2 separate regions of the Homo sapiens genome follow, and region 2 is linked to region 1. Evidence: fine-mapped expression QTL. A gene starts in region 1. The other region holds a variant in brackets. All regions are shown on one strand. Distances are from middle to middle. Region 1 holds the start of DGKH (diacylglycerol kinase eta). Region 2 overlaps VWA8 (von Willebrand factor A domain containing 8).

Evidence for each region. PIP is the estimated chance that this variant, and not a neighbour inherited with it, causes the effect. A credible set is the group of variants that fine-mapping cannot tell apart.
Region 2: its variant is the best candidate, but not a certain one, in a credible set for the expression of DGKH in gastroesophageal junction (GTEx, PIP 0.89).

Annotation. Positions count from the first base shown.
Region 1 is chr13:42,047,484-42,050,390 of GRCh38, forward strand. It overlaps DGKH (diacylglycerol kinase eta), which reads left to right and starts at 1,165. Exons shown (of 30, transcript NM_178009.5): 1 at 1,165-1,482. The coding sequence starts at 1,291. RefSeq lists an enhancer at 312-401 and a silencer at 942-1,471.
Region 2 is chr13:41,677,736-41,680,642 of GRCh38, forward strand. The region is part of intron 35 of VWA8 (von Willebrand factor A domain containing 8); the gene reads right to left. Among named protein-coding and RNA genes, the nearest start is that of MIR5006, 110 kb to the left of the region's middle. The variant T/A (reference allele first, on the strand shown) is at 1,480.

The DNA.
Region 1 (2,907 bases):
CTATTTAAAAATATAGCTAACACCAGTTTGGTGTTCTCTTTGGATGACAAGAGGGATCTGTCGTTTTAATGTCTTCTCTCGCAGCCCCCTCACCGCAGCCCCCTCACACCTGTGAGGCTTCTTTGACGTTGAGCGTGCACAACCCGCTGCCAGTCCGCGGTTCCCAAGTGCCCGCGCAGCCAGCTTGCAGGGGAGTTGTGCGCGGTGGCTACAGCCTGTTGATCCCACTTCCTCCTGCTCTAGTCCGGGCTAGGGAGTGGCTCTGCCAGGACTTCCAAGGCTTTTTGTCTCGGGTACTGGTGTTCGCATGGCTCGAGTGTATTGTTTTCTTCCAGGCAATCTCGGTTAGCGCTTCAGCTTAGACACTTCTTGTGCGTTCTGTCGTCTTGGGCTGCGTGTAGTCTCTTGTTTCTGCGCTTTCTCCACGCCCTTCCCAGTTTCCTGTTAGCCGAAGGGGATCGCTCTTTCTGAACGAAAAGTTCTCAGAGCGGAGCTGAACCTCCCGGAAAATGCTCTTCTCTTCCGTGTGCGCCGGATGGGGGTGGGGGTGGGCCAGAAACTGAACGCCGCCGTCAGGAGAGCTGAGGGGACCCGACGGCCCTGGCGGAGGCGGGAGAGGTACGGTCCTCGGAGTGGGGCTGGGGGTGGGGAAACCGACGAGGGGCAGCCCCCGACTGTCTTGGTGGCAGAGGGGACTTTTATTCAGCTGGAACCGCGCGGCGAGGCCCAAGTGTCTCTGGAGAGATTCGGGGTTCAGGAGGTGGCGGGTGCACCCAAGGGTGCTGGGAGGAAGCTCCAGGTTCCCATTCTTCCCCAGGGATCGGCGTTGCCCCTGCTGTCCAGAAGTGAGAGGGGGTGTGCGGGCATCGCCACTACGGGGTGGGCTGCAGAGGTTTCCTGCCTCCCCCACCCTCCTGTCCATCCTAGGGACCCAGACCGTAAGGGAGTGGAAGAGATGTTGCTCCAAACCCTGTCACCCCATCCTCTCTACCCGCGCTGGTCCTATCCGAGGCTGGGTGCGCAGGGGTCCGAGGCGGGCGGGGGTCCGTTACCTCTGCGTCCCACCGTGGCCGCCGCTCCGGCGGGAACCGAGCGGAGGAGCCGGGTGGACCCCTGCCTGGAGGGCGCCTGCCCCGGGCGACCCTTACCTCGCGGGGGTAGCTAGGGAAACGGAAGATGGCGGCGGCGGCCGGGCACGGGGTTCCGGGCTCCGCTCGGGCAGAGCCCACCCGCTGACCAACGCCGCCGCCCCCGCCGGGCGGTGCTGTGTCCCCGCAGGAGTCGGAGAGGATGGCAGGGGCCGGAGGCCAGCACCACCCTCCGGGCGCCGCTGGAGGAGCGGCCGCCGGAGCCGGCGCCGCGGTCACCTCCGCCGCTGCCTCGGCGGGGCCGGGAGAGGATTCGTCTGACAGCGAAGCGGAGCAAGAGGGACCCCAGAAACTGATCCGCAAAGTGTCTACCTCGGGGCAGATCCGGACCAAGGTAGGGCGGAGGAGGCGGGCCTGAGGGCCGCGTGGAAAGCGGGAGGTGGAGAGGGCGCGGGGGCGCTGGAACGCGCCGGGCGATCCCGGGAAGGCGGGGAAGGCGGGGAAGGCGGGGAAGGCGGGGAAGGCGGGGAAGGCGGGGAAGGCGGGGAAGGCGGGGAAGGCGGGGATGGTGAGACGGTGAGGCGGGGCGGGGCCTGGGGCGCGGGCGGGGCGGGGAGGGGTGGGGCGGGGCCCGGGGGCGCTGGACCGCGGTGCTGCGGGACGGATTCCCGGCGGCTGCGCGGGAGGCTGCGAGCCTGGGCTCCCAGGGAGTTCGACTGGCAGAGGCGGGTGCAGGGAACCCGCGGCTCGGCGGGAGCGTGGGAAAAAGCTGACGCGCAGTCGCGAGTTCCTACTTAGGGAACTTAAAAGGAGAGTTTCAATTTTTCTTCCCTGCCGTTCGGGGGAGCGTGCGCATGTGCTGGCCAACCAGCCTGCGCTGCAGTGAGCCCTGCTGCTTTCCCACTTAGGCCCACTCAGAGGGTGGGTGGAAGGTGACACCGGTCAGCCTTTCCTGCCCCTCTGCCTCCTGCTGCGGTCTGGAAGGCAGAAGCCCCGAGGCAGGCAAGTGGGACATGGTGTTCGCGGCTTAACCGCACCCTGCATGGCTCCAAGGGCTGGCCAGGCTTTCGTGTCGCAGGTTCCCGCCAAGTGCAGGCAGGGTTCAGAACCATGCGTCCATGGTTCTTTTTAATAATGAGAAGTTACCTCTGTGCTGTGTGGACATTAGGATGGTGTGTTACTCTTGTTAATGAAGCTTGTGCTGTCGACCTGTGAGGTCTCAAAGTTAATTTTTAATTTGATCATGAACATACCAAAGCAAATGCTTATGGATATTAAAGGATTTTTATGTATTCTAATTTTCATTGTAATTTAAAAATCTTCACAGAGAGAGTCTGTTATCAGTAGGGAAATTTAACGAGGATATTGAAAACGGAACCACAAAATCATTGGCTTGGGGTACCGTTTTTAAAAATAAATTTGCAAAAAATTCATTCTACAGTTATTTTTATGAAAAATTTTCCCTAAGGTCAATGAACTCCTATTTGGAAACATAATTTTTATTCAGTGCCTGTGGAGGCCGGTAACGGTGGCTCATGCCTGTAATCCCAGCACTTTGGGAGGCCAAGGCAGGCAGATCACTTGAGGCCAGGAGTTCCAGACCAGCCTGGCCAACATGGTGAAACCCCATGTCTATTAAAAATAAAAAAATTAGCTGGGCTTTGAGGCGTGCACCTGAGATCCCAGCTCCTCGGGAGGCTGAGGCAGGAGAATCGTTTGAACCCGGGAGGCGGAGGTTGTGGCGAGCAGAGATTGTGCCACTGCACTCCAGCCTGAGCGACAAAAAAAAAGCTAGTGGATTAATGTTTGTAGTAGCCTG
Region 2 (2,907 bases), 370 kb before region 1:
TCTTTGATGACAATTTCTGATTAGAATTATATATTTATCTATTCATCCATCCATCCATCCATCCATCCATCCATCTTTTATTACAATTTCTGGTTGGAATGAAGTATCCAGGATGTCCTGGATAAATTCAAATTTGAATTTATCAAATGTAGTTTACAAAAAACAAGAAACTTGACATTTTTATTTCATGCATGTAGTTGAAGGTTTTTAAATAGGCCAGCTGAAAAACTCGACATATCTCCTATTTATTTAACAAATGTGTTTGAGCATATTTTGCGCCAGACATCATATGAAACAGCGAGGATACAGAAAAGAGATGTGGTCTCTGACTTTGAGGCATTCACAGTAAAATGAGGAAAGTTCCTTTTTATTAAACCATTGTGGGCCTCTGGGGACTTGGAAAGGATTCTAGAGTTGGAATCACAGTCCTGAGGCCAGGTATGAGCTGCAGAGCTAGGCATGGGTTGTCCCAAGAGACAAATAGCTCAGCAGGAAGAAAAGGTAATGTCCAAGGAGAGGAATGGGTAAGAAAATAGAGTTACTATAGTAATTTGACCACCCAGCTGGATTAGCTGTCTTCAAGTGGCCATTTGCACAAAATGAATATGCTTATCGTAAGCCACACACAGTCTGCATTGGAAATTCTGCCTGTGATATAAGGTCAATCTTGGATAAAGTTTTGTATCATATATCATTTTTAACAATTCCTGCTGCTCGAACCTAGCTGAAGTAGGTTGAATTATTTATAGCTCAGGGTTCTCTGCCAAGAGTGACCAGTTACTGAAGCTATAGAGATGAGTGGAGCTGCCTCGCTAACTAACTTACTCATATTTTGGCTTGCCACTTAGAGGCACTTTTACAAATAAGGAATAGTATTAAGTTGAGCTACTGCCATCAGCACTTTTAGATTGCCTGTGAAAGCAAAGTAAGCCAACTTATTTTAAAATATCTTTTTTTTCCCATATCTTTCTTTTCTTTTACTTTGCTAATTAATTCCTTGGTGAGAAAATGCAATAATGACAGTGTCTACTATTTCAAGAAGTAGAAAGCAAGAATTTTACTCCTGGTATTAAGAACTATTTTCATATATCAGAGAAGGGTAATTGTGGCTACAGATCACTTCAGGGAAATATAGTAAAGGTGGTGGTAGTGGTGGTAGTAGCAGTAAGCACTTTAAAAATAATAAAAATTGATGTTTACTGATTTGAAAATAAGTCAGCTCAGAAGAAAAGAATATTTACAAAAAGATTCTTGAACAGAATACTTGACTGAATTAAGGAAGTGAAAACTGTGGCCAGGTTTCCCTCCAAACTTAGCCAAGTCCTCATCCATCCATTTTAAACGTTTTAACACTGGAGTGAGGATGGAGGCTCAGTAAATTTCCATTACATTTATAATCCAGGTGGATTTCAAAGATAGGTATAAGTTGTATTTAGGGATTAGTTCACTAACCATTAAAGGGAAGTCATTGCAGCAGTG[T/A]TTATCACATAGCTCCCATGAATAGTGGGGACAGTTTACATGCACAGTGCCAAGGTTAGAAGGAGGTATTAAAAACTGTCAGGCAAAACAACCAAGACAATTTTCAGAGGGAAGGTGAAATGCTATTTAAAAAGTCACTCCTTCTAGAACTGTAATTTGATGTACACCTATTAATCACTGGGTTTAACACACTTCTGTGTTCACAGATAAAAAGAGTGATGTGTGCCCCCAAACTGTGCTGATACCAAATTTTTGATTTTACCCAAAGTTCAAAAAAACATTGTACTGCTTTCAATCAAGAATCATTATTTTGTGTTTAAAGAGCTCAGACCTGTGGTTTAAAAGAAGCTAGCATTTAGCTAGAAGAAAAACAGTTGGAAGAAAGCAATAAATTTCTCCCCATCTGCATTAAATAAAAGCTACCTCATTATTGTGAAAGCCACCAGGAGAGTAGTCTTTACAGTTGATTTCTTTATAAAAGGCTGATATACATTAGTTCCAGACTAATTAGATGGTTGGATTTGGTTTACTTTACAAAATTATTCTAGCTTGAATTTTCATCAGAGATCTACATGCACATAGAATTAAGTATCAAAAAGGCTTAAAGAACAAACAGCCCTGCTTTACCCCCTACCCGCCCCCGGCCGCCCCACCATTTCCTGCCCCCTAGAGACACTTTCAACTTTTTAAGCTATTTCTGTGGTATTCACCTTCATCATTATGGTGCCCTCTTGATGTTTCAGCTTCAGGTATTATCTCTTGCCTTCCTCCCAAGCAAGAAGAGAGTTTAACTCTTTTTCATTCCCCAATCCCCCACTCCCGATTTTCCCATCCCCCCAAACATTCATATAATTTTGCTTGGATTAACATCCAGTGCTTATATTATTATAATTATCTAAATGCTAATCACAGCTTTGCTATGTCTTATATTATCATTACTTTTTCCTGTATAACTTTTTGCTTTCATTGGAGCTAATAAGCATCATGTTTTGTTTGTTTAGTTTTATTTAGTACAAATTTATTCCCAAGGTTCCCTAATTGTTAAAATCTCTAAATATGTTCATATATATTGGGTTTATCAATTTCAATTTCTAAGAGACATCTCTCCTGAAATGTCATCTGTTCTAATCTTAGGCCTGTGCATGGCTGTTACCCTGGGATCTTCCTTCACCATGCTCATAGGGATTTTCATTCTTTCTCTCTTTTTTTACAGCCCACATTTATAAAATTCTTCCCCCATGCCAGACATTGTCCTAAGCACTTTATATATGTTTGGAATATTTTAGTAACACTACTTAAACAAAAGAAGGGAAATAAAACTCCTAGAACCTAAGAGAAAAATGGCTAAATAGGCAGTTCTTGGAAGAGCAAATGGCAACATATGAAAGGATGCTCAAATGTACTAAAAGTCAGAAAAAGGTAATGTGA